Homo sapiens: one gene and its partners. The protein of the gene in region 3 interacts with the protein of the main gene of each other region in a pairwise test. Each region holds a gene or a part of one and is shown on either strand. Other genes may lie near its edges.

Region 1 (3,166 bases), on a different chromosome or scaffold from region 3:
AGCACTTTGGGAGGCCGAGGTGGGCGGATCACGAGGTCAGGAGATCGAGAACATCCTGGTTAACGTGGTGAATCCCCGTCTCTACTAAAAATACAAAAAATTAGCCGGGCGTGGTGGCGGGCACCTGTAGTCCCAGCTACTCGGGAGGCTGAGGCAGGAGAATCACTTGAACCCGGGAGGCGGAGCCTGCAGTGAGCCGAGATCGCGCCACTGCACTCCAGCTTGGGCGATAGAGCGAGACTCCGTCTCAAAAAAAAAAAAAAAGACTCGGTGGCCCAAAGTCCCAGGTAGAGCTCTTGTCGCCACCCCATGGGCTTCTTGGCAGCCCGAGGGTCCCCTCTCGACAGTAGGTTCTGTGCCCTGCCCTGGCATGGCACAGGGAACGCGGAAGCCAGGCTCCGGGAATAGGGGAGACGGCTGGCTCCTGAAGCTCATGGCCACTGACTACCAGAGACCCCCTGCCTGGGTTCCCACTCAGACAGACAGACAGGGGCTCCAGGTGGAGTCTGATGATCTTTATTTCTTAGACAGCCCTGGACTGGGGCTATGAAACACAGTCACCAGCACTATACTCACTCCTAGGGTGGCTCTGTCTGTGGCGTTCCTCACCATCCCCGGGACTCATAGCTCAGTGCCACCCCCCGACACCATGCCCTCCAGGGGGAGGGGACAGCGAAGGGGAGAGGAGGGAGAGCCCTGCGCCTGGCCCTGTCCTGAGTCCAAAGATTCCCATGGTGATCAGAGGGCGGTGTTGGGAATGTGGGACACCCTTGGCCCCGCCTCCCTGACCTCCCCACTACCCCACCAAACCAGCCTTCCTTCCTCCTGGCACTTCCAGTGTCCATTCCCGGCAGTGCAAATGTGTTAGGTGGGGTAGGGGGTGGGATAGGGAGATAAATAGCAGCCTGGCGTTGGCACTGGCTGGTGCTCTGTGGTGGGTATGAGTAGGGGACGGGGCCGCCTTCCTGGAGACAAGCTCCTGGGTGCTGTGATCAGAAGGGTCTGTAGCTCCAGTAGCTGGAGAACACGGAGATCTGCAAGGGGAGAGGGTGCTGTAGGTTGCTGAAGGGGGATGGGGTAGCCCAGGGGAGATGTCAAGGTCACCCAAGGACAATATGTCAGGACAGGGCATTGCTGCCTCGCAGTGCTGTGGGGTACACCAGACCCCAAGGTTGGGGCGCTCTGAGGGTGTGGCAAGGACCCTTAGAAGTCCTTCCCCTAATGAAGGCGCTCGGCCCGGGCCCACCTTGTCCTTGAGCTGCTGGCAGAGCTGCAGGGAGACGGTGAAGTAGACCAGGGCGTCGTTGAGCCAGGGGATCACGCACTCCACTTTGTGCACGTGGCTCACCTCCAGGCGCTGAGAGCCCCACTCGCTGTGGGCAGTGAGAGGGTCCCTGAGGAGGGTCCCGGCCCTCCAGGTGTGGAGGGATGGGGTGGGCGTGCCTGGACCCCCCGCCCCTGCCTACTTACAACATGGCCCCAGGGCTATGCAGCACCGCGCCCCCAGCTGGGCGGAAGTTCTAGGGAGAACAGCACCAGACCCGTCAGGCCTTGCAGGGCGTGTGCATGGCGGGCAGTGGGCCGGGCAGGGGTCCCTCCTCACCTTGGTGGAGTTGGGCTGCAGGGCATGCAGCTGGTACACCGTGAGGCAGAGCTTGTTGAGGTTGATGTAGACGTTGACCAGCAGGTCGGACGGCAGGGCAGGGGCGAACATCCGCTGCGGGAGGCAGGTGGGATGAGGCCCTCGCAAGCCCCCAGCCCAGGCTGGATGGAGCGGGGCTCTGCAGTCACTCATGGAGTCTGCAGGGGATCCCAGTCCCCACCCCAGAGATGCTCTTCTCATCAATGGGGGCTTCCAGACTTTTCCCAGGTGCCCCAAGTATCTCCTGTGCTGTCAGGTTTGGGAACCACTAACCCGAAACAGGGTTAACGTATTTTAGGGGCACAGGACGGAAGCCAAGGACCCCATCCCAGAAACCTGCCTAGACAGAATATTCCACCTATAATCTGGGAGTGGCACCCCTCCGCGTCCATCCTGAGGGCAAGCTGGGACCCACTGTGGGACCCCTCTCCTGCAGCAGGGGCTGGCAGGGGCACTGACCGTGAGGCCGCTGGCGGCGATCTCGGGGAGGGTGAGGGTGGCGGGGGTGGTGAGCCGGTTTCGGGCTCTGGTCAGCTGCAGCATCACTGCGTCCATCAGCTGCAGGGAGAGGCGGGGTTGGCTCTGCGTCCTCCCGTGTCCCCATGCATTAAGGAACAACAGACATGGTAGCTCCCACTCCCACCCAGCCCAGTGGCTACTGTTCCCAGGTCCCGAAACCCGGCAGCAGGGACCTGTTAAAGACAGGTAGTTGGGCTCCAGCTGGGTATGGAGGAGGGCAGGATGTCTGCACTAATGTCAGTCGGGATGGGGCTGATTCACTGCACGGGGATCCTGGGTGCTGGATCAATGGGGAATGGAAGGTCCTGGGAGGTCAGTCCCAGGGGCACAGGCTTTGTGGACAGGGGTACAGGCAACAAAGGTTGGTTGTAAAGGGCCAGAGAGGGCTTCCTGGAAGAGGCGATGGATGACTGGGTTGAGGTTTTCAGGGGGGTAAGCCAGGGTCACGGCTGATGGATGGTGGGACCACCTGGAGCCCATTCCTTCCCTTTGCCGTGGAGCAGAGCCCTGGCAGACTCCTCAGAGCCCCAGCTTTCGTGCCATTCAGCCGTGGCCATGAGTACCAGGGTGATGTGGCTCCCAGGAAACACGTAAGAGCTGACTGGGGGTATAGGGCCTGTAGCACCCTAGGGTGGTTACAGTTCTCGAAGGGATCTTAGTCTATCTGGTTCTAAGTGTGAGGAAACAGAGGTCCAGAGAGGGCAGGTGAACCACCGGAGGACACACAGCAAGTCAGGGGCAGAACTCAAGCATGAGGTCAGGTGCCCAGGTCAGCTCTTCACATGTGCCACGCGGTTAATGTGAAGGCTTTCACTGCTGCTACCGGCAGTGGTGTGTGCCGAGTGCTTACTGGGGGCCCCGTGACCTGAATTATTATGGTGAACAGTCACTCCAGCTTGCCCCTGACCCCACAGGTAGAAATGGAGACACAGAGTCGGCAGGTAAGTGCTTACAGGTTGCACAGCTCAACGTGGAGGCCCTGGGATTGGAACCCAGGTGTGATTC
Region 2 (9,253 bases), on a different chromosome or scaffold from region 3:
ACAGGCACTTGAAAAATATGTGTGGAATAGATGAATGACTATTTTATGTAGAAAGTAGTGTAGACATAGTGCCTCAGACTGGGCTGGCTAATTTAGTTCTCCATAGAAGCTGGGGCTCTTTCTCCATCAGTCTAGTGCTCTTTGACCATTATAAAAACAACTTGCGTCCAGGCGCGATGGTTCACACCTGTAATCCCAGCACTTTGGGAGGCCGAGGAAGGCGGATCACCTGAGGTCAGGAGTTCAAGACCAGCCTGGCCAACATGGTGAAACCCTGTCTCTACTAAAAATACAAAACAAGTAGCCTGTTGTGGTAGTGGGCACCTGTAATCCCAGCTACTTGGGGAGGCAGGAGAATCGCTGGAATCCTGGAGGCTGAGGTTGCAGTGAGCTGAGATCACGCCACTGCATTTCAGCCTGAATGACAGAACGAGACTCTGTCTCAAATAAATAAATAAATAAATAAATACAAAACAACTTGCTCAGAGTGTCTCTGACACTGAGGTAGACCAGATATGCACAACGACTAAAATGATAAATACATATTCCTTTTCTCGTTTGTGTCGCTCCTCCGCTTCCTTCATCATTTCTTGGGCCTGCTCAAGCTTTGCATCCACCAGCTTCTGCTGCAGTTCTCTGTGTTTAAATATTTTGTCCAGATGCTAAGAAAAATAAAGTGTACATAGAAAGCTTGGTTTATTATTGGTGCTTAAAAATGCAAAGTAAAATAATTCACATTAATACACATTCCCCAGGTTTTAAGATTTAAAAGAAGAGAGGGATAAATGCATTGGCATCACTTACAGCTTTATAATAAAGCTGTAAATTGGTGAACCCCTCCCCCTGACTTTGCACCACACACACAAAGCTAGCTATAAAAGGTAGAGGCACCAGAGTTCAGCAGTGTCAATGCCAAAAGATCCATACAATATTTTTCTACGTTTGGTAACTATTAGATATGATGCTATTTATTATGCTAGACAGCACAGACAATGATGTATCAGTATACAATATACAGGGGCTACAGTTGTATCATTTGGTATTTTGGCTCTTTCTGTGAATATAAAACCACTTTTAATTGCAACACTTGTGCAATTTATCATGATGAATTCTCTGCATTCTTGCCTCTGGCGTTGTGAGAAAGCCTTGGGGTGCCAGCATGTGGTCCGAGGTCTGGGAGTGAGGCCTGAGCCCCCCTGAATTCTACTCTGTTGCTCTGGTGGAGATGACAAGGCCAAGGGTCATAGAGAAATTGAGTCGCAAATGTGCAGAGCTCGCCACACCTTTTGACCTCTGGACTAGTTTGGTCAAGAGAAACTTCCAACTCTACCTCAGGATGGATAAATTCCTGGTCACTGGGAGGTCCAATCAGAAACAGGACATGGAATTCTCCCCTTGGGCTTTACTTAGAACCAGTCCCAGGAATATACAACTAGCATAGCAGCCCATTCCCATCTGAGATCTCTCTGAAGAATATGGACATTTTCCTTTCACTCCTTCCTATCTTCTTTAGTCTGAACCTCCATTCTGGAGCGGGATTGATCCTTATGACAAGATAAAATGGTAGCATGGCATTTTGGCTTACTATTAGGAGTTTCTTGATTTACCTAACCACCGCGACCATATGCTGTTGGCTCAGTTTTGTGCTTGATAAAATCTTAGCATGTTACCAACAGAGCCGCTTTGACTATGTTATGTTACATTTTAAAGCAGAGATTTAAAATTTGGGTGGGATAGGGAAAGGAATATGATGTGTCAAAATCCTGAGAGGGTATCTGGAATCTTAAAAATATATTAAATATTAAAATATAATTTGGGTATAACAAAAGACCTTGATCATCCCCCTAATATAACCTATTCAAAGTAAAAGGCTTTTGCCTCTTGTGACTGTGGGTAAGTGGTTTAATCTCTTAGCTTCTGCTTCTCATCTATAAGATATGGATAATATATTATTATCTAATGCATAAGATTGTTGAGACAATTAAATGCCATATGGTATGTAAAGTACAGCACTTAGCACATTGCCTGATACAAACTAACCACTGAATAAATGATATCATTATTATTACAATGATTACATTATTAATACTATTATTGGCCTGGTAGGGTACATAGAATACAGACTCTTTTTTTTTTTTTTTTTTTTGAGACGGAGTCTCACACTGTCGCCTGGGCTGGAGTGCAGTGGCGTGATCTCAGCTCACTGCAACCTCCACCTCCTGGGTTCAAGAGATTCTCCTGCCTCAGCCTCTCGAGTAGCTGGGATTACAGGCGCCCACCACCACGCCTGGCTAATTTTTTTTTGTATTTGTAGTAGAGACGGGATTTCACTATGTTGGCCAGGCTGCTCTCGAACTCCTGACCTCTTAATCCACCTGCCTTGGCCTCCCAAAGTGCTGGGATTACAGGCGTGAGCCACCGCGCCTGGCCAGAATACAGACTCTTAATTTAGATGACATGGCAATTCTTAAGAGGGAGTGCGTGAGTTATTTTTGGCTATAGAGAGAGGATTTTTAAAAGGCTGAGAAATATTATTTTCAAGGAAAACTGTGCCCACAGCCTATCACTTTCTATTTATTGCCTTTACTTTGTAGTGATGCCAGTTTTGAAGAAATCCCATATGACTTTCAGTCAGGTATTTTGTAAGACCATCTGTCTTCATTTTGGCTCGTCAAGGAAATCCAATCCTAAATATTAATCAGTTGAGAGGGCTGGCTGTAACTGTCTTATTAACCAAGTTCCCACCTTTAGCTCCCAGATCCGGATCTATGTACTGTTCTAAGTTGTTTGATGTGGTTCTCACCTCCTCTCTGAGCTCATACTGATCGATGATGCTTTTCAGCTTTTCTGCAAGCTCTGTGTTCTCCTGACAGAGCTTCATATTTCGCTCACTCTGCTGCTCGATCTGGCCCTGGATGTCCGTGAGGGTACTCTGGAAATGGCTTGTGATTTCCTTCCTTTTCTCTTCTTCCTCACGTGCCCGCTGAAGCGCCTCTTCCTGCGGATAAAAAGCAAAACATTTTGTTTAAATGCACCCCGGGTTTATAGAACTCAGCATTAGGTCACCTAAAGGAGATAAGTGTGCAGAGTAGGTGGGATGTTTTTTCTCAGTTCTCTAGAGCTAAAGCTGCTCAGCCCCAAAATAAATGTATGAGTAAAGGTTTCAGCTGTGAGTACATAGTTACTCAGAACAGGTGCTGTGAAGGCCTTGAATTTGTAGTCAGTGATGAATAGACTTGTTTTAAAGATGATGCGTCTCTTGCTGAGTGAATGAACTGCAGCGATTTCTAACAAACACACAGTCACACGATTTTGATCTCTTGGCTGTGGCCTGAAAAAAAGGCCACTTGAGTTTACTGATGGATGAGACAGATCATGTGTTTCTCTGGTTTGGTAAAGGGAGAACAATAGATCTTATATTTCCCTGTAAAAACCATGGCATATTAACCACATAATTATATTACCAAGTTTTGTAAATATAAGTGATCACAATAAAAATTTTCTATTTGTGAGAAAAAACTTTCATCAAAAAGCTTTAAAAAAGGAAACTAAGACAGCATAGCTCAATTACAGCCATTCAAGAATATAAAAGGGAATCTTTCCAAACATGCTGGATATTATTTTGTTTTTGAAAGAACAATCATTAAATGTGTCACATAGGGTAATTAAAATGTTCAATGTAAATTTTGAATCTGAAAGCAATATTAAGTTTCAAATCTTCTTTAACTCTAAAGTGAAACATCTAATTTTCCTTCTTCCGCTTTGTTAACATTGAAGAATTGCAAATTAACTTTTATATCATTTCTGTTCTCTTTTCTCCTAAATCAAAACTCTCCATTCATTGCTAGCCACTAACAATGAGCTCCAATTTCCTCCATATCTATATTGAGAATTGCTTTGCGATTGTTATTCTTTTTGAATAAAAGGGTTTAATTTTGCTACATCCTACCAAAGATAGAGACATTTACGTGGCTGACAAATGATACAGACATTTTAGGATTCCTTTCAGTTCTGATTAATTGTTAATATGAAAGCTTGCTTCGTTGTTGGCAAGTAAAATTATACTGAATTTGATTGCCTACCAAGTTCAAATTATGTAACAGGATTTTTTAAAAGAAATAATAATTTTTAACAGAAGTAATTGTACAGACCTTTATCATAACAGAATAATGTGATCCAAATAAAAACTGATGCTGAGAATATATGCTCTGAAAATATTTTATCATTAGGTTTCTTCTTTCCTCTATAATAACAACACATTTCCCAACTCTAATGTGACTCCTGATGTCAGAATCATAATTTATTCATGTTATAAACCTTTATTAAGCAACAACTTCTCAGGGGTATTGAAGATATCTGTACTTCTTAAACTGAAGAAATAAACTATCCGAGATGTTATTTCCCTGAACTTTGTATACTAACACTTACTATATGTGTTTCGCTAAAAATAATTATGGTTACCAGTTAGGAGCAACTAAATATATGTGTGATTATGATTGTTTCCTCACTGGTCCTGATTAGCTTAGAAGTCAGCAAGTTTGGAATCAGAACTACAGACCATGATTTGAATACCGTTTGTATTTATAAATATTCCATGAATGAATAAATGAAACACCCCATGCAAGTCTGAGTTGTTGTTTTTTTTTTAATTGGGAACTGGCTATAGAAAGAAGGTACAGATGATAGGATGGCACTAAATAAATGTCAAACAAACAATCATAACCGCCAATCCTGGCCCAAAAGATGTAATCTTGCATATATATATATTTTTTGTTTTGTTTTGTTTTGTTTTGTTTTGTTTTGAGATGAAGTCTCACTCTGTCGCCCAGGCTGGAGTGCAGTGGCATGATCTCGGCTCACTGCAACCTCCAACACCCGAGTTCAAGTGATTCTCCTGCCTCAGCCCCCTGAGTAGCTGGGATTACAGGCACGCATCACCAAGCTCAGCTAATTTTTTTATTTTTAGTAGAGACGGGGTTTCACCATGTTGGCGAGGCTGGTCTCAAACTCCAGACCTCAGATGATCTGCCCACCTTGGCCGCCCAAAGTGCTGGGATTATGGGGGTTGAGCCACTGCCCCCGGCCTATATTGTTTTTCAATGAGACCAAAAGAAATCTAGCAAAATCTTATAAAATTTGAGTCCATTGTTAGAAGGATTTTCAATCATTTGGACAGTGTCTGAGATAAAATTATCTTTTCTTTATCAAATACATTATTCAAAGTCAAAATAATGTCAATAAAATTGAGGGATGAAGTCTGAGATAACAAAAAAACCTTGCAAGCATCATTGTGCATCTTACAACTGGTGCTGTGCCTGGCACATAATCCAAAGGTATTCAGTAAATGTTTATTTAATGAATCAGTGAATTATTAATTTATGTACAGACATATGAGTAGCTTGGACTAGATCATTCCTACAGTCCTTTCCACATTAAAATTCTGTGATATTCTGACAACAAATGCTTCTCATTTCTTTAGGAAAATCATGCTCCCTGAGACACTTACCCCTCTCTTACTAGGCAGTTCTTTTTCAGCATAGTTTGAGGCTCAGATTTATCACTTTGAATATATGTATGATTTTGTTGAAACAAACCCATGTCTCAGACTTTTATCAATCCTTTCTTAAGTTATCCTAAATTGTGAGGTTGTATGTGTGTGTGTGTGTGTGTCTGTGTGTGTGTGTGTGCGTTTGACTCATTAAAGAAGCGGTTTTAATAAAGAAAAGTAAAAGCTAAAATTTGTGATGGCGGAAATACCTAGTTATACATTGTCTTTCTATATCTTCCCAAGCTCCCAGCGCATGGATTTTAGATTTAGGTACACTTAAGGTGTTTCACTAGTGTGGCCAAGGAAGCTCATATCAAGTTGACCCTTTTGCAAATAACAACTGTAAACTCTGGATGAAATGCAAGAAACAATGATGACACTAGAGAGTAAACAAAATCAGACAGACTCTAGAGGGAAGTTGGCACTTGTACATGAGTTTCCTATTCTTTATAGCTTTTAGCTTGAGGGAAATCTGCAGTTGGCAGGAGTATGAGGTGGGCAAAATTCTCATATAAAACATACCATCTTTCATATTAGAAGAATAAGAATACAGAGTTCTGGACAACTATAGTCCCTCAACAGTGAGGGGAAGATCACCCAAAAAAAGAGAGAGTCAGAGAAATAGAGCCCAGATCCTGTGAATGAACTTTACACAAATCTGATTGGCCTTGAGCCACACATGTGCAAAGCAGTCTAGCTAAGTAGAAAAGAACTGAACTGAGATTTCAGCTGCTGCTCAAGAGACAAAGTTTATGGTTTGAATCTAACCAAATTAATTGTCTGCTTAAAAAAATAAAAACTATTCATCATATAGTAGAATCCAGATTCTCCAGAACATAATAGTCACAATATCCAGGATCCAATAGACAATGGCTTGACATATGAAGAACCAAGAAAATATGGCCTATTCTCAAAAGAAAAGACAATTAGAGAAGGCTTTTTCTACAATGCTGCAAATGTGGAATTAGCAGACAAGTATTTTAAAACAGGTATTATAACTATGGTCAATGATGTAAAGGAAAATATTATCTCAATGAATGAGAAGGTAGAAAATCTCAGGTGAGAGGTTACATACAAAAAAAGAACCAAATGGAAATTCTGAAATTAAAAATCGCAAAATCTGAAACACAACCATCACTGGATGGATTTAGAGCAGAATGAAAATGAGAGAGAAAAGAATCACTGAATGTGAAGATAGACCAATCAAAATAAGATAATCTAAAAATAAAAGAGAAAAAGTATTGGTGAAGAATGTGAAGACTGACTCGAAGACCTGTGGGACAATATCAAAAGGTCTACACACACAGAGTTAGAATCTTAGAAGGGAAGAAGATGGAGAGAAAGTGGAGCAGAAAAACTATTTGAAGAAATAATGGCTGAAAGAAATTCAAATTTGGTAAAAGACATATAATTACAGATACAAAAAAGCTTAGCAAATACCAAGTAGGGTACATGTGAAAAAAACCACTCCTGGCCTTAAAGCAGTAAAAGTTCTGAAAACGAAAGATCAATACAAAGACCTTGAAAAGGGCAGAGAAAAAGGACATATCACATATGGGGGAACAATAATTCAAATGATTGTTGATTTTCATGAGAAATTTTAAAAGCCAGTATAGTGGCACATTTATTTAAGGCTAAAAGGAAAAAAAAAAAAAAAACCCACGAATAGGTTCTCTCAATGCAGAATTCTATATCCAATGAATTTAGCCTTCAATTAAAAAAAAAATAAAGATGTTTTAAAGATAAAAGGCAACTAAGAGAATTGATTACCAGCAGATTTGTACTATAAGAAATACTAAAAGAAGTACTTCAGGCTGAGGGAAATGACATCAGACAGAAATGTGAAGCTACAGAATGAATAAGAAGTATCAGGAATGGTAAACATCTGGGTAGATAAAAGGGATATAGTTTTGCCTTTAATTTAAGAAGAAATACATATTATTGTTTAAAGTAAAAATTATAACAATGTCTCATCGGCTTTACAAAAGTATATAAATATAATACATATAATGATGATAGCTTAAAGGCTGAGGGAGTAAATTGATCTATTTAGTTGCAGTGTTTCTACATGTTATGTGAAGTAATACAACATTAACTCCAGGAAGACTATGAAAAATTAAGAATGTATATTGTAATCACAGAGCAACTACTAAAGATAATGTGTAGTGTTATAATTTCAAAATACAAGAGATGAAATGTAATTTTTAAATATTCAAATAATCCAAAGGAAGGCAGGAAAAGAACAAGATAAACAAAGCAGAGGTGACAAATAATAAATAATAAAATGGTAGACATATATCAAACCACATCAGTAAGTACATTATATGTTAATGGACTAGTACTGCAATTAAAGGGCAGATACTGTAGGAATGAAAAGAAGTAAGATCCAGCTATATGCTATCTTGAAAGAATGCACTTTAAATATAAAGACCCAGGCTGAAAATGAATGGATGAAAAGAGATACACCAGGCAAACAATAAGAGTAAGAAAACTAGAGTGGCTAAATTGATATCAGATAATGTAGACATCCAGACAAAGATTATTACTGGTCGGGCGTGGTGGCTCACACCTGTAATCCCAACACTTTGGGAGGCCGAGGCGGGTAGATCACAAGCTCAGGAGTTCAAGGCCAACCTGGCCAAGATGGTGAAACCCCGTCTCTACTAAAAATACAAAAATTAGCCAGGCATGGTGGCGGGTGCCTGTAATTTCAGCTACTCAGGAGGCTAAGGCAGAGAATTGCTTGAACCCGGGAGGCGGAGGTTGCAGTGAGCCGAGATTGCACCACCGCACTCCAGCCTGGACGACAGAGCGAGACTCCATCTCACAAAAAAAAAAAAAAAAAAAAAGATTACTAAGGGACATTTCATAAAGGTAAAATCACCAATTCATCAAGAGGACATAATAATCATAAATGTATATACACCTAATATTAATGCTTCAAAGTACATAAAGCAGAAATTGACATAATTAAAATAAGCGGACAATTCCACAATTATATGAAGAGATTTTTAACTCTCATTTCTCAGCAATTGATAAAAAAATTCAAAAAAGGCATAAATGATTTAAAGCTAATTGTTACTTATAGAACACTACACCCAACATCTGAAAAACATTGTTTTGAAGTACATATGGTATCAAGATAAGACCATGTATGATCGGCTATAAAAATTAAATAACACTTCTAAATAATCCCTGGGTCAAAGAAAAAATTAGAAAGAAAATTTGAAAATATTTTGAATTTGAATTCAAATTTCAAATATTGATTTTGACATTTAAATATGCTTGATCTTGGACAACCAATTTGGATTGCTGAGTGTCAGTTTCTTCACCAATAAAGTGGAGATATTAACCTTCACTGGGTTATCATGAAGATTAAATGAAATAATGTATATAAAGCACTTAGCATAACTTCTGGCATAATAATAATACTTAATGTCATTGTTCATAATGAGAAGCCATTACTGAGGGCATATGGGCACACTTACAGGGTCTCCTGCTACTTTGATCATTCTGTCTTTGTTTTTTTGGTGGGGGAGAATCTCTAGCCAGTTGGATGGTATTAATAAGATCTCTCTCTCTCTCTCTTTATTTTCTGAGACATTGCTCTCTGTCACTCAGGTTGGAGTGTAGTGGCGCAATCATAACTTACTGCAGGCTCGAACTTCTGGGCTCAAATGATCCTCCTGCTTCAGCCTCCCAAGT
Region 3 (9,253 bases):
CTCTCTGGAAATGCAGGAAAAAAGCATTTATACAATTTTCAGACATCTGACCTACACCAAGAAAAGATGGGTCAGAATAGATGAGTCATTTTGCAAATTATAGGAATTTTGTAACAAAACAGTTAAAAGAGCATCTATACTGTAATTCACTGTTGGCTAATCATGTTCTCTCTGGTTTCACAGAAGCTTGTATGCATTTCTTATCCTTGCTACTAGATTACTCTAGTCTCTTAAAGGCTAGAGTAATTTGAGTAATTGCAGCTGATCCAAAATCTCTCTTAAAGGCAAGAATGCTATCTTATTCAGCCTGTGTTCATTATAGCACCTACTAAAAGTCCTTGGATATAAAAGATTCTAAAATATTTTATTATGTGAATATCTTGTAGAAATAAAATTAAAATTAAATTATTTTAAAGACAATATACTTTCTAAAAAGATAACAAACATAATAATCATTAACAATAATAATAATAATAATAATACCACCATCTAGGATGTATTGCATACTTACTAAGTGTCAGGTACTATGTACTATATGCTAAGTCCTTCATATACATTCTTCCAACTAAGAACACAGACTGTAGGTAAATTTTATCACATACATAATATAAAAAAATACCTTCCTGGCCGAGCACGGTGGCTCATGCCTGTAATCCCAGCACTTTGGGAGGCTGAGGCGGGCAGATCACCTGAGATTGGGAGTTCGAGACCAGCCTGACCAACATGGAGAAACCCTGCCTCTACTGAAAATACAACATCAGCCAGGTGTGGTGGCGCATGCCTGTGATCCCAGTTACTCAGGAGGCTGAGGCAGGAGCATCATTTGAACCCGGGAGGTGGAGGCTGCGGTGAGCCAAGATCACGCCATTGCACTCCAGCCTGGGTAACAAGAGTGAAACCCCGTCTCAAAAAAACAAACAAAAACCCTTCCTGCTGCTGGAGTGGAGAGTCATATTTTGCTCACTTCCAGTATTGTTTTACCTTCATTTTCTTTGAGAAAATTTCTGCAAAAGGATCTAAGTTGATCTTAATTCTCTCTTTATAATGTAAATATTTACAAAGTAATTTTTTTGAAGGCTTGGATAGTAGAAAAACTTAAGTTTCTATTTATGTACCTCATGTAAACCCAATTCCAATTTCATCACCATTTCAGAAAGATGACGATTTTCTAATTTGAGTGACTCCAGCTGATCCAAAATCTCCTGAAAAGGGGAAAACAGAAAAAAATAAATATAACATGTAAATCACATGCATCTTACAAAATTTTTCCACATGGAATTTTCATTAGGCTAAGTCATATTCTTCATTTATATATATATACATATACATATTTATATATATATATACATATATATATGTACGTGTGTGTGTGTATATATATATATATATATATATATATATATGGACTTTCTAAAAAGATTTTTAAGATGTTATTAAGGTGAATGAACATGAATGGGATGAAGATATCATTCTAATAGGATAAATCAGGTGACAAAGCAGCAAAGTTTCAATCCACTGAACCCCTTAAATCCCTACCCATTCTCCTGTGCTGGCCTCCTCCAATTTGGCTTCTACCTGCAACGTCACATGGAATTGTACTTTATTCACAAAATAACAACTTATATTCAGTTCTCATTCCCCTCAGCTTTTGTGCTTGACCATTCCCATTTGAAAATATTCCTTCTTTCCTTGGCTTGGCAAAAACTATCTGATTTCCCTCCTCACTGCTCCTTTTTTTAAGCTTCATTCCAACATCTTTTTTACACTAAATGAGAAGTATCCTAAGTTTGGTTTGAGTCACTTCTCTTCTTACGCTATGCTTTCTCACTATAATCATTAAGTCTCTCAGGGGGTTTCAAATGTCACCATGAAGAAAGGACAGCCACAGCTAAATGCCTAATCCTGATTTTAATCTTCAACTCCAGGCCTTCTGTGGAATTGACTATTACCCATACAAAATTCCAGCCTTTATTCCAAACAAATGTGTCAAACCAATGTCCTCTCCACCAGTTTCCCCAGTCTGTGTACTTTTCACACAAATTCATCATCCTTCACCAAACTTGCTCCCTGTCTTTTCTCTATTTCATTAAAAAGCATCACTTTCCATCAGTTGCCTAAGTTTAAATCCTGTGGAGCACCATTCCTTAACTCTGCCTACCTCACCTTCCCTGCCAATCAAATACAATGCCCAGTCATTTTTACCAGCCCAGTATCTCCAGAATTCATCCATTTCCCTCTGCCTCCCTTGCCCACTGCTCAGGCCACCATCTTACCACTGTAACAGCATCTGGGTGCTCTGTCTCCCTGCTTATTCTCCATTTAAGGACCACTGAATTTTACTCCTGCTTGCAGCCATTCCCTACTGACCTCAAGGTCACAGTATAACTCCTTTACGTGGCTAACGTAGCCCTTCAGCAGCCAGTCCCTGCTTTCCAGTCTCATACCTTCCACTCATCCCACTTGTACTCTAGTTTCAACCACAGCAAGCGTGTTTCTACTCTCTCTTAGAGACCTCTGTATTTTCCTGTGCCTGAAACACTTTTCCTCCCCATCACCCAGCTTGCTCCTAACTTAGCTTTGCTATCACACCTTCTGGAAGGCCTTTGCAGCGAGTGGTCTAGATTCAGGCTGCTTGTGATCTCTAGTGACTCTCACCATACACCACTGATACAGTCACTTTACTTGTCTGTGTCTACTCTCACCTCCCCACCATGCTCACTAAACTCTTTGCTAGCCAGCATACTCTCAGCTCAAAGCAGGTATCTAATAAAAATTCACTGAATTAAATATTATGAAAATTATGTCTTTAATCAACTCCATCTTTAAAACAAATTTCAAATTTAAAAAAGGTTTTGTTCAGGCTTCACCTTATGCTCTACTGCTTTGTCTTCTGCCTTTTGCATCTCTGCTCTGAGTCGCTTTTCCATGTCTGAGGAAGAACCTTTGGTGGAAGCAATAGTGATATCTCGCTGATGTAACTCCTGAGTTAGATGGGAGATTTCCATCTTCATTCCTTCTAGTGCAGAACTGTAACTTTGTTCACCCTGTAAAATCTGTTCTTTCAACTATAAAGAAGCAGAAAAGAAAGCACCAAAAGTTAAGAGAAAGCATTTAGATAGAATAATATGTTACTAGCTAATAAAATAAAAGTTCACCTTATCTCAAGACATTAAATTTCTCTTAAATTAAATCTGCAGAAAAATTAGCAATTTACCAAGTTGCATATCTGTACTGAAGGTCAGGTGGTTATACCTACAATCATTTATTATACCTCAAAACAGGGAGAGATGGGTTATTCAAGTGCTGAGGACCAGAATCAAGGTCCATGCACACAATTTAGAGGAGAGTACTTGTGACCTTCATTCTTTTTTTTAGTTGTGAATCTAAAAGTTTTGCTCATATGGTATCTTAGTCCACAGGATAACAAATAGAACAAGAGGAAGTAAGGAACTAGAAGTAATCTTAAAGAAGTAACAAAAAATACAAATCAAACAAATAGGACAGTTAGGGCCCATTCATATAGACACAAACAGCTCTGCATACCTCAATAGCTGACAAGGATACTAACTACATCATAGCACAGGAGACAATACATAAATACTATCTTTAGGCAATAAGAAAATATTAAGTGACAGTTCATATTTTTTTGCAAGCAACAGAGTGTATGTCTTTTAGAAAACTTTTCATCAAAACATGTTTAAAATAAAGTTTTTGAGTTCAAAGGGGACAGCCTTCAATTATCTTAAAAATATTTATTGGGCATCAGGGGCGATGCCAAAGAAAGAAGGCACTTTCCCTATGCACATTCCACAAACTCTTCCACTCCTAAATATCAAGTGGTCCCTTGAACTACATTTTTTTCTCATTAAAAATAACCCCTATAATCTCCCAATCCACAGCTTTGTCCATAAACACATACAATTTTGCAATCCTAGGTATGCAGATTTTTACCTTCTTAATCTCTGCTTTGTATTCATTGTTATGTGCTTCCATCCTCTTCAGTTCTTCATATTTTTCCATTAGTTCTTGGCTCAGCTGTTTACACGTTGCACTCACAGATTCCAAACTGTATGACAAAAATAAGATCCCATACTTAAAACCAAAATCCTGAAACCTATAAATTGGACTATCTAATTTACATTCTTGATATCCAAAAAATATCCAGCCAATATCTTAAACATCACCTCAGTCATTTAAAATATTACTAAAAAGCCAATCAATAAAAAAACTGTGATAAAAATGTAAACTGTTGTCCCAACGTCAAAAATAATAAACTTAATTTTAGTCAAACGGAAGAGTACACATATACTTCAATAATAACAAAGACTATCTCAAGTACTCCAAGTATTCCAAAAGGAATAAAGCAGAAAATATGTGTGTGTATGCATGTTTGTGTATTTAACATGTAGATAAAAGTAAGAAAATACTTACTGGTTTCCAAAACCAGAAATAAATGTAAAAACAAAAAATGTATTACTTAAAGATAACCTAAAAAGTGTAAAATGATATTTCTCTTGTTGTTTGCCTAAAGGTTAACAGTTCATGTTAAAAGCAATTTTATCTTTTACATACAGAAAATGTCAGTGTACAAATGATCATGATTCATGTGTTTAAAACAAGATATCACACTCTTCCCAATCAAAAAGTTGAGAGGTTATGAAAAACCAAAAAAAATTCTATAAGTACGACAATGACAAGTGTTTAGGTGGGTATGGTATAGCATTAGTCAGGATTCAATTAACACCCAAGGAAGTAACAACACCACAGCAGAACAAAAAGGATCACCATGTGTCAACTGTTACCCCTTCCTACCCTGCTTCTGAGGTGGCAAGGAGGAAAACCTAAGTGAAGGGCTGCTAAACAGGTGAAAGGTAAAGAAGTAGAGTCAGTATAGACAACTCTTTTGAAGAATTTGGTCTTAAAGAGAAGTACAGAAATGTGGAAATAACTTGACGGAGACATAGGATTAAGGGATGGTTTTTCCCCCAGATGGGTGATGTTACAGCGTATTTTATACCAGTGGATAGATTCAGCAGACAGAAAGAACTTGATGATGCAGAAGAGAAAGGATATAACTACAGAAAAAGGACACAAGTGGAGTGGTTGGTCTTAGAAGTGCAGAAAGGCACAGGTATGGGCAGACTGGTAGATTTGATGACAGAAAGATTAAGAGGTTCTCCTTTAATTGCTTCTGTCTTCTCAATGAAATAAGAACTTAGGGCAGGGTGCGGTGACTCATGCCTGTAATCCCAGCACTTTGGGAGGCCAAGGCAGGTGGATCACCTGAGGTCAGGAGTTCAAGACCAGCCTGGCCAACATGGTGAAACACCGTCTCTACAAAAATATAAAAATTAGCCAGGCATGGTGGTGCACGCCTGTAATCTCAGCTACTCAGGAGGCTGGGGCAGAAGAATCAATTGAACCGGGAGGCGGAGGTTGCAGTGAGCTGAGATTGTGCCATTGCACTCCAGTCTGGGTGACAGAGCGGACTCCGTCTCAAAAAAAAAAAAAAAGAAATAAGAACTTAGGCCATTTGTGGATACTAGAAAAAAATCTTATTTTTTTTACTATGACTATTACATTCATTTACAATATGATGATCAAAAATTCATTTTAACAACTTGAAATTTTTGAAATGTGTGTATAATTATGTACCTGCCTTCAAGACAAGTCACCTCTGCCTGCAGAAGGTCCTCACTAGTATGGGTAAAATTCAACTGGGAGAGCACACTGTCTAAGTCCCCCTGCCCTTGAGAGGTGTACTTCTTTTCTGCCAGAGATTCTTCCCGTGGCCTATGGAAAGACATAGGATGATTGTTAACGCCTTTATCTCTGCAAACAAAAATAATGCTCATCTAGTCTGTGTTTCCCCATCATTTTTGGTAACCTCTTTGGAACTCTTCAAGTTTGTCTCCTGCTTTATAAAAAGAATATTGGGAGAGGAAAGAAAGAGTCAAGAGATGCTGATACTTCAAAAAGTAGCAATTTACTCCCTTCTTAACTGGGATTTGGCCTTTTTTCAAGGGAAAAAGACAAAATGGCAAAATCACTTCAGTGACACTTGAAACCCTGTACCAAAAAAACTGAAAAGTTACAGGAGAATTCTGGCAAAAATAAAAGTGTGCATCAGACTTAAATCAAGCAAGAGGGCTAGCCCAATGGCTGGCTGCTATTAATGATAAGCAGCTACTAATCACAACTTATTCCACCAACAAAGTGAGGCCTCCAGGAGACATGGATGACAATTCCCTGCACATTTGGATTTTCACCAAGCATGCAAACTGACCTTGGTTTCTAACTTTCTAAACATGAGAGTCTCTGTTAGGGACCCTAACTGGTGGCAGAAGAAAATTAACCACACAAAATTTTATAACACTTTAAAAACCTAACTCAGAAGTTAAAGCCAATTAAGAAAATCCACAATATGATCAAACATAAAATTATGAATATGCAATATGAAAACTAGTGCTTGGATGGGCGTGGCAGCTCACACCTGTAATCCCAGCACTTTGGGAGGCTGAGGTGGGCAGATCACCTGAGGTTAGGAATTTAAGACCGGCCTAGCCAACATGATGAATGCCCGTCTCTAAAAATACAAAAAACTAGCCAGGTGTGGTAGCATGCACCTGTAGTCCCAGCTACTTGGGAGGCTGAGCCTGGAGAATGGCTTGAACCTCGGAGGTTGAGGTTGCAGTGAGCTGAGATTGCACCACTGCACTCCAGTCTGGGCAACAGGAGACTATCTGAAAATAAAATAAAAATAAAAATAAAAATAAGCCTAGTGCTTAATACCTAGTCATTAAGTGGCTAAGATGAATAATATTTAAGATTAAATTTACCTTATAGCTTCTACAGCATGTTGAGTGTTAGTTGCCTTTACTTTTTCTTGTAACTTCTCCTTTTGTATTCTGGCCTCATGTATGAGATTTTCTTGAGACTGAAGAGCTGCCTTCAATTCTCTCTTTTCTTCCTGCAGAGCCTGCAAAAAAGTCAAATATGATTATAATTTTCCTTCTTTTTAATTCCTGCAGAACCTGCAAAATACTCAGAAATTTCTAAGCCAGCTATTATTACAATTTTTCTATTTCACGAGAAGCCAGGAAGTCAGACTATAAGTTACGTAACAATATTACAATATTGTAAATATTGTAATAAAGTCACAATATTAGTAAAACTATCAATATCTGATCCATCATTTATAAAGTAGGGAAGAAAGTATGGATTGTAGAACCTAGTTCTAGCTTAATAACACTCTCTTAAAATACTCATACACACACTTCCCCCAATTATAGTGATTTTAAAACATACCTCTAATAGTTTTTCAGATTCCCTCAATTTTTCTTCTTTTTGCTGCTGCTCCTGTAGGACAGTCATACTGGTTCCAACCAAGTCATTGACCCTCATGGTGAGGCGCTCTATTTCCAACTCATTGGCACAGATAGTGTCATTAGCCCGCTCCAGTTTACTGCTTAAGTGTTGAATTTCTGATTGGCTAGAAAGTTCCACAGACTCTAATTTCTGTTTCCGATTGACAAGCTGAGCCTAGAAACACAGACTATCAATCAATAGGTAAAAGGGAAATGATAAAATAATCAATGAATAAGACTAAAATGAAACTATTATTTCCATAAAAACATAAAGCATTGGCTCACTAAAATATATATATATATATTGCGAAGGGGTAAGAAAGAATTGAGAGGCTGGGAGTGGTGGCTCACGCCTGTAATCCTAACACTATGGGAGGCTGAGGCAGGCAGATCGCTTGAGCTCAGGAGTTCGAGATCAGCCTGGAAACATGGCGAAACCCTGTCTTTATAAAAAATACAAAAATTGGCCGGGTGCAGTGGATCACGCCTGTAATCCCGCACTTTGAGAGGCTGAGGTGGGCGGATCATGAGGTCAGGAGATTGAGACCATCCTTGCCAACATGGTGAAACCCGTCTCTACTAAAAATACAAAAATTAGCTGGGCGTGGTGGCGCGTGCCTGTAATCCCAGCTACTCGGGATCGGGAGGCTGAGGCAGGAGAATCACTTGAACCAGGGAGTTGGAGGTTGCAGTGAGCCGAGATTGCGCCACTGCACTGCAGCCTAGTGACAGAATGAGACTCTGTCTCAAAACAAACAAACAAACAAATAAAATACAAAAATTACCCGAGCACAGTGGCATGGGAGGATCACATGAACCCAGGAAGCGGAAGTTGCAGTGAGCCAAGATCGCACCACTGCACTCCGGCCTGCGTGACAAAGTAAGAACCTGTCTCAAATAAATAAATAAATAGAAAAGAATGGATAAAGTAAAGGGATTCCTCAGGAGAAGAGATGCTACAGTATTCTACCTACTCACACAGAAATTCAACCGCAACCTGGCTGGAATTATTTCCTATTTAAAACATAGGAAATAGGAACTATAATGCATTATTATATTTCTGATGGAAGTTTAGAAATTAGAATTTCAAAATCACTAAATTTGTAGTTTAAATTCCCCCCCCCACCTAGAGCATGTTGTAATTATTCTGTTTTAACATTATAAACATTCATATTTAGATTAGTCATCGTGACCATAAAATGCTCTTTAAATTCAGAGAAATGGGGAAATTGTGGTCTTTTGTTTATTGGAGGAAAAGGTGCTTATAAGGGAGGAGAGATTGGTTCTGTCATCAGTTTTTGGACACTTCCTGAGTTAAAAGAGGTAAACAAATATAATGCATCTCAAACTGGTTTCTCTGAATGATACGTTTACTGACTACTATGTTTTAGGCTATGCATCCCAGCAGTATTGGGTTTTAGCTCCAAACTTTTTAGTTTTTACAAGTTTTAATCCAGCATCCTGGCTGGTACTTCATCTACACATTGAAGATGAATATAAATAATCTGTAGAGGTAAACTTCCCTTACTCGAAATATTTCTAAAGGTAAAATCACACAATTTTACTTTAGAAATACAAGTAGAAATATCTCTGGGAAATCTATCTATTGCAGATTTAAAGATTTTATTATTTACAGTACAGGTCCAAATCCTGTACTATATACTGTAGTCAAATAAAGTAGATGCTAAAAACTTCCCATAAGCCAGAGAGAGGGTAGGAGAGAGGTGAAGAGATAGACAAATACTGTTTGTATAAATTACCGATCAAGATTTCAGTGCAAAGAGCCTTTTTTTTTTTTTAACCAGATCCCTACAATGGTATAAAGGAAGAACATCAACATTTAGGTTTAGATTCACTAGAACAACTGCTAAGCATGGAACTGTCTC
Region 4 (7,308 bases), on a different chromosome or scaffold from region 3:
GTAGAGACGGGGTTTCACCGTTTTAGCCGGGATGGTCTCGATCTCCTGACCTCGTGATCCGCCCGCCTCGGCCTCCCAAAGTGCTGGGATTACAGGCGTGAGCCACCGCGCCCGGCCAGATTATCATTTTAATCATATAAAAATAAGAGATGAATTGAGGTCCATCTTGGATGTTTTTTCTTCTATTAAAGAATTAGCCGGGCACAGTGGCTCACACCTGTAATCTCAGCACTTTGGGAGGCTGAAGCGAGTGGATCACTTGAGGTCAAGAGTTCGAGACCAGCCTGGCCAACATGGTGAAACCCCATCTCTACTCAAAATACAAAAATTAGTCAGGCGCGATGGCACAAGCCTGTAGTCCCAGCTGCTCGGGAGGCTGAGACAGGAGAATCGCTTGAACCCAGAAGGCGGAGGCTGCAGTGAGCCAGGACTGCGCCACTGCACTCCAGCCTGGGCAACAGAGCAAGACTCTTTCTCAAGAAAAAAAATTTTAAAAAAGCAGACTATTTCTAAGTATAATTTAACTAAAAACACTACTTCAACTTCAGATTTATTTTAATGATATATACAGGAGTTAACAACTTACAATTAAAACAAAATCAGTTATGTTAATTCCACATAACTTAAAATCATGCAATACTGCATGGTAAAAACAACAGCTTTGTTCATACACAAAAATTATTATTTTGAAACTCATGAGACCATCTAGAAATTTTTCAAATAAACTTTTTGCAAGAGTATTTTATAAAAATTTAAACACCTGATTAATCAGTTAATGCATTATTAGGAAAGATAATAAACATTATTAGTAAAGTGAGGTTACAAGCAATTAATTTTAAAATTACACCAGGTACAGGGTTGAACATAATCTCATGAAATAAATGTTTAAGAAAATAGTTTTGAAAAAGATCTCATACTGAAGCCATGTTAAATTTTGATAAACCAGGTTATATAAATCAAGTCGTTTATTCAGTTAATGAAAATATGCCTAACCTTTCTTATACTCATAAATAAGTACTTATATATAATCTTTATATACAAGTGAAGAAAAGTTCAATGTAAAAAATATACTGCCAATCCACTTATTATGGTTGAAATATTTATCTACACATTAGACTGCATTGATGAAAATGTCCAATTTAAATCACATTTGACCAGCATAAATATTTAAGCTGAGTACTGTCGTAAACAATAGAGAAAAAAATCCTTTTATTTTTATTTTTTATTTCATTACTGGGTAACAATCTACTTCTCAGCTTAGAATGCTATAGAAAGCCTCCACATTTAATTTAATCAAATCTGAAACCCAATAAGCTTAAACAAAGTGAATGTTTTTCAAAGTGCATAATTTCCAACTCATCCACTTGCAATATTTATCCAATTCCAGTTCATCAGCAAGAAAATAAAATGTACTTGGCTATAAAAATACTGAGGAATGTTATCGAAAAGGAAAGGCTATTTGGTAGAAGTAACTACAAAAATAATTAGTTTAAATCTTTGTAAAGCTTTAATGTAAGAACATCAGTACACTTTCTTTACATAAACCTTAAAGCATGATCAATACCAAGATTTCAAATTTTCAACTTTCAAGTACTTGAAAAAGGGTTGCAACAAAGTGTCTCTTCCCAAAAAAGCAAGAACAGTGATCATGCAGGTGTTAATCTGCAGACATCTGAGGACACTGGTATCTGTGTTGGGCTGTCATTTCTGGCTCCACTGGCAGAGAGTGTAGGCAAGGCATTACTTTGAAATGCAGATGTAGGACAAGGAGTCATGACAACATTTTCGTCTTCACCAACGTCTGAATCTGGTGTTGTAACTTCACTGCCTTGAAGCCCAAGGATCTCACAGACTGCTTGTGGCAATTCCTGGATATGAAAAATCAAACTCAAAACCATATTTCACTACAGAGGAAAAATAACCACAAAGTAACACTTCTGTTTAAGACTACATTGATTCCAGAATCTGAGCATTTGTCCTAACAGTGTAAATGTCATGTACCCTTCTCACAACATTTTTCTCAGCTCCAAATGAAATGCTAACCACCTTTCGCCCTAAGTGGTTCTTGGATATCTTCCAAATTAGTCACTCTCCATCCCACCTCCACATTCCCACAAACATAGCATGTCCTAATATTTGGCATTTATCTCTTTCTACTTTTTGTAATAATATCTTTCTTAGATCATCTGTCTCTCTCAGTAAACAAAGTTCTTCAAGGCAAGAAGTATCTCATTGACATGCTTTGGAAGAGAACAGGTATCAAATAAATGTTTGTAGAACTGAACCAAGTAACAGTTTGGATCAATGAACAAATGATACAAGGACCAAGCAAGAATTTTCATAAAAATGCAAAGTCATAAGGGGTGCAGCAAACCAATGTGGCACATGTATACCTATGTAACAAACCTGCATGTTGTGCACATGTACCCTAGAACTTGAAGTATCAAAAAAAAAAAATGCAGTCATGGCCGGGCGTGATGGGTCACGCCTGTAATCCCAGCACTTTGTGAGGCCGAGGTGGGTGGATCACCTGAAGTCAGGAATTCTAGACCAACCTGGCCAACATGGTGAAACCTCGTCTCTACTAAAAATACAAAAATTAGCCAGGCATGGTAGCAGGCACCTGTAATCCTAGCTACTCGGGAAGCTGAGGCAGGAGAATCGACTGAACTCAGGAGGAGAAGGTTGCAGTGAGCCGAGGTCACGCCACTGCATTCCAGCCTGGACAACAGAACAAGACTCTGTCTCAAAAAAAAAGCAAAGTCATGAGGTGGGCACAGTGGTGTGCATGCACTGGTAATCCCAGCTACTCAGGAAACTAAGGCAGGAGGATCACTTGAGCCCAGGAGTTCAAGGCCAGCTTGGGCAACTTAGCAAGGCCCTTTCTCTTAATAGAAAGAAAAAGCTAAAACACATCAAAAGTATACTGCTTTGGTTCAAATTCAGATAATACATCAAATTTGCCTTGTTTTAAAATAATTAATAACTTGACTAATATAAGTGAGTGACACAGGCTAAATAATATTGATTTAATTATTTCTGATTAGCATTCATTTTTGTTTAGAGATTCTGCATATTTAATATGACAGCCTATTCTGCATTCATGAGCTCAACTGGGTAATATATCATTGCTGAAATTCTACAGCCTCTTTGTTATAGAAATATTTTCATTACTTTTACCATTTTGCCTTATTATTAGCTGTTTCCTATCTGCCATAGTCAACTGTTTTCAATTAAGTGCTGTAAATCTAGAACAGCAAACAAAAAGCCAGCCAATACTTTGTGCCTGCCCTCAGCTTACTAAAGTTGCTATTTTATTTCCAAGAAGAAAAATCTTTCTTGATCTCAACCCACCAAAAACAAACAAATCTTGCAATTACTTGAAACACTGTATACCTTGCATTTTACCATCTGTAGAGAAATTGCTTCTGCCTTGCAGAGTATATCTTCCACATCAATTTTCATGGACAATTCATTGATATGCTAAAAAGTATCAACAAAATAAAATGATATCGAAACTGAATACACTATTATATTCTATTATATAAACAATTTATTACCAGTTATATTTCACTGCAGATAAAATCCTTAAAATAAAAACATTCATATACTACAAATACGTAAGAAATTCAATATATCTTTCTTTAGATTATTTCAAGTTTTAAAGCTAAAGACTAGCTAATAAGCTTATGGAACATTAAATCCAGCAGCTATTCCAAGTCTGATATCTCAAAGTTATAATCAAAAGACAATTAATTTTTGAAAAACTAAACTACATAAAAGAGCACTTGTTGAATTTCCTTTTCTTCCTAATTAGCCAGGTAAAAATAACTGGCCAATATGTATTTGAACTGTCATTCTCAGATAGTCATTCCTAGCACTGTTATTGACACAATTTAAGTTACTCAAGAGATTTAATAATGTTCCAAGGAAACGTTCTGTATATCAGGACCACCAAATAGAAAAGCCAGAACACTAAAATCTGAATTAAAGGAATAACTACCTTAAGTATTTCATTGAAGCCATAATGCTTTTCCATTATTTGCTGCTTTTCTGATTCCAGAATAGCACAACAGAGAAGAAGATGGAAATTTGTACATGGTAGTTCGGTCCACATTACCTATAGAAGGCAGAAGAACTATTTTGCAAATTGTATCAATTCTAAAACATTTTCCTCACAGATACAATTCTGAACACTGAATGACTTCTATGCAAAGTAGATGTTGCCTGTTTAGGGTAGCCCAAGGTTTTTCTAGCTAGGAAATGAGGGGAAGGAGAGTCTTACCTTCAGCTACAAAGTAACTATCATCGAGTTTATATGAATATGATATATTCTAAATGTGGCTCTTTAAGGTAACTATAGTAAGTAAATTACTGAGCCTAACCAGTATGATAAATGTTATTAATGCAGGAGCTACAGACACAAGGTTAAGGTGTAAGGGTTAGATGTATTTTCAATATTTTTCTGAAGTATCAGTTTCTCACTTCGATCTGAGAAAAGACTAAAGCTAAGTCCTGGAAATAAAAAAAGGTTCAGTTACACAGTACATGGAATCAGAAACACCCAGAGGTAGCTCTACATTCTAAATACGTAAAACCCTTGTATCACATTTTATCCCTGATTGTGACAATAACTGAATTAACTGCCCCAAATTTATAACCAAACATAGAAAACGCTTGATCAACAGCTCAGCTGTTCCTAAATACAGATAATATCCTCGAATTTAGGGTCTTAATTTCCCCCTGCTTCATGTACCTAATAATATATTTTCCACAAAGATAAAAACACCCACACAAACCATACCATGAGATCATACCCGAAATGTGTTTACTTCTTTCAAAAGGAGTAAATCAAGTTGAATAATTTTCAAACTAAACCCAATTGTTGAAAGTTTAATTACAATGCAATTAACCTCAAAGGTTTCATTAAAAGTTTGAATTTATTTAGTAAACACAGATTGAGGAGTTATTCTAGCTATGTGGTAATAATATTCTTAATTCATCCTTTAAAACCCATTTATGCCTGAGGATGCAATTTTTTGAATTTTTCAATCAGACCTTGGTGATGACCTTGAGCAGTAGGATATAAACAACTCCCACATGCTTAGCGTTCCAATAATGGAACACTAGGCATAAATACATTAACCCATTTTTAACCCCCAAATTAAGACACTAATTTAACAAAACTGATAAACATTTAAGTACGATTCCAGATAGAGACCATGTGGGTTTTACTTCTAATCTGAGAACAGAGGAAGTGAGCATAAAGTAATCCACTTTTAACTTGTAATCAGCACAATGCCTTGTCTAATGGTAGCACAGCCATCAATAGTATAGGAATCCATTTCCAGCTGTAAAAACCTCAGAGACCACTAGAGTTCCACTGTATAAAGTTGGATTTACAATCAAAATGGATTATCTCCCAATTCTTTCCTTGGAAGAATTTCTGTTATCCTAAGGTATGATCAATCATTATACCAGCATTCTATGAACAAGCACACTGGGCTGGACACAGTGGCATACACCTGTAGACCTGTAGTCCCAGCTACTTATAAAGCTGAGGCAAGAGGATTACTTGAGTCCAGGAGTTCGAGATCAGTCTAGGTAACATAGCAAGACCCCTTCTCTTTAAAAAAAAAAAAAAAAAAAGCACACTGATTTATTATTAGCAAATACTTTAGAAAATGTGAAATGATTTGGTTTTTCATTAAAGGTTGCCATGGAAAAATAAACACTGGGGATTACACATGGGGGGATGGTGTAAGGGAAACATGGGATGTAAAATTACCTATTGGGTACTATGCTCACTACCTGGGTGATGGAATCATTCACACACCAAACCTCAGCAACATGCAATTTACCTATGTAACAAACCTGCACATGTACTCCCTGAACCTAAAATAAAAGTTGAAAAAATAAAGAGTTGCCTTGGGTAAAAAATGGAACAAAAGGAGTACACCAAAAACATAAGAATATCCTCTATAACAGATGTGGCAAAGCCTCACATAAAGTCAAGTCTCACAAAGGAAGAACAAAGGCAGCAAATGGTCTAGAGCACTTGTTCTGGGATACCTCTTGGCCCCAAATCTCACAGAGATTGTGATTTGAAGAACGAAGCTCCAAAAGACCAAATATTCAGTGTGAAACTAATTTTTAAGAAGAGGCTACCAGTTCATCAGAATTTTGGAACATACTTGCCTTAGATATTTCAGTAAGGCTATCATAATTCATTTACACTCTACAGAATAAATTGTTTCTTTTCATAATAAATATCACATTTGCATAATAATTTAAGGACTTACCTCCCATAATCGAAGAATATCTAGAAAACTAAATTCCCTTTTGAATCTGATTAAAAGCCACCTGAAGCAAAAATAAAGGTATCCAGAGTCCTGAGATTCTATGCAGAAGAAAAAAACACACATATGACTTACTCTTATGCTAATTATGTCAGAATACAGTTACTTTTCTCTAACTTTCCTATGCATCTTAGGCAATTCAAGGCCCTATACATTTGTCTTCTACGTTAAGGAATCATTTCAAACTTGAAGGCTGACTTCTTTTTAAAAACTAACAAATAATACATTTTACGAATCAAGTTTAAGGCAGAATTATACAAAGAGAGTTTGGTTCCACATTTTTATGGAACCGAAGAAAGTGCAATAGAGTATATATGTCTTTAAGTTCTTTTTTATTGAGACAGTGTCTTGCTATGTCACCCAGGTCGGAGTGCAGTGGAGTGATCCCAGTTCACTGTAGCCTCAACCTCCTCGGCTCAAGTAATCCTCCCACCTCAGCCTCTTGAGTGGCTGGGACTACAGGCATGCATCACCACAGCCAGCATTTTTTTTTCCTTGTAGAGATGGGGTCTCACTGTGCTAGCCAGGCTAGTCTCAAACTCCTGGGTGCAAGTAATCCTCCCTCCTTGGCTTCCAAAGTGCTGGGATTATAGGCATGAGCCACTGCACCTGGCTTCTTTAAAGAGTTCTTTACATTTTTTTCTATGCATTACTCTACAATTTGCTGGGTATAGTTCTGATTCACTAAACTTACCTAAGTAACTGCAAAATCCACTGTCTAACAATCGAAGTAAGGTACTCAGCTGAATTAGCTGGGTCTTCATGCCTTGCATTTGTTCTTCAAAATTCTGATGCTTTAAAAGGAAATAATTGTTACAAGTAATATTTAATAAATATTTTATAGTACATAATGACTGATAACTAAAACATGATGTCTAAGGACAAATGCTGAACTTATACCACACTGGTAATCTTAAAAAATGCGTAACTAACCAAAAATCTAACGTAA

Evidence for each region.
Region 1: the proteins of CEP63 (region 3) and ROGDI interact in binary tests that used the Homo sapiens proteins (3 or more experiments, as listed by UniProt).
Region 2: the proteins of CEP63 (region 3) and TXLNB interact in binary tests that used the Homo sapiens proteins (3 or more experiments, as listed by UniProt).
Region 4: the proteins of CEP63 (region 3) and TBC1D15 interact in binary tests that used the Homo sapiens proteins (3 or more experiments, as listed by UniProt).

What each region holds. Positions count from the first base shown.
Region 1 is NC_000016.10:4,796,468-4,799,633, forward strand, and holds the end of ROGDI (protein rogdi homolog), read right to left. Parts: intron 2,201-3,166; coding exon 2,102-2,200; intron 1,718-2,101; coding exon 1,604-1,717; intron 1,521-1,603; coding exon 1,471-1,520; intron 1,395-1,470; coding exon of another isoform or gene 1,374-1,394; coding exon 1,247-1,373; intron 1,035-1,246; coding exon 993-1,034; 3' UTR 501-992; downstream 1-500.
Region 2 is NC_000006.12:139,259,776-139,269,028, forward strand, and holds part of TXLNB (beta-taxilin), read right to left. Parts: intron 2,999-9,253; coding exon 2,804-2,998; intron 663-2,803; coding exon 543-662; intron 1-542. UniProt on the Homo sapiens protein: Promotes motor nerve regeneration. May be involved in intracellular vesicle traffic.
Region 3 is NC_000003.12:134,543,875-134,553,127, reverse strand, and holds part of CEP63 (centrosomal protein of 63 kDa), read right to left. Parts: intron 7,543-9,253; coding exon 7,309-7,542; intron 6,980-7,308; coding exon 6,840-6,979; intron 5,794-6,839; coding exon 5,656-5,793; intron 4,067-5,655; coding exon 3,952-4,066; intron 3,066-3,951; coding exon 2,868-3,065; intron 1,203-2,867; coding exon 1,116-1,202; intron 1-1,115. UniProt on the Homo sapiens protein: Required for normal spindle assembly.
Region 4 is NC_000012.12:71,917,543-71,924,850, reverse strand, and holds the end of TBC1D15 (TBC1 domain family member 15), read right to left. Parts: intron 7,154-7,308; coding exon 7,054-7,153; intron 6,401-7,053; coding exon 6,303-6,400; intron 4,139-6,302; exon of another isoform or gene 4,121-4,138; coding exon 4,004-4,120; intron 3,484-4,003; coding exon 3,397-3,483; intron 1,869-3,396; coding exon 1,647-1,868; 3' UTR 538-1,646; downstream 1-537. UniProt on the Homo sapiens protein: Acts as a GTPase activating protein for RAB7A. Does not act on RAB4, RAB5 or RAB6.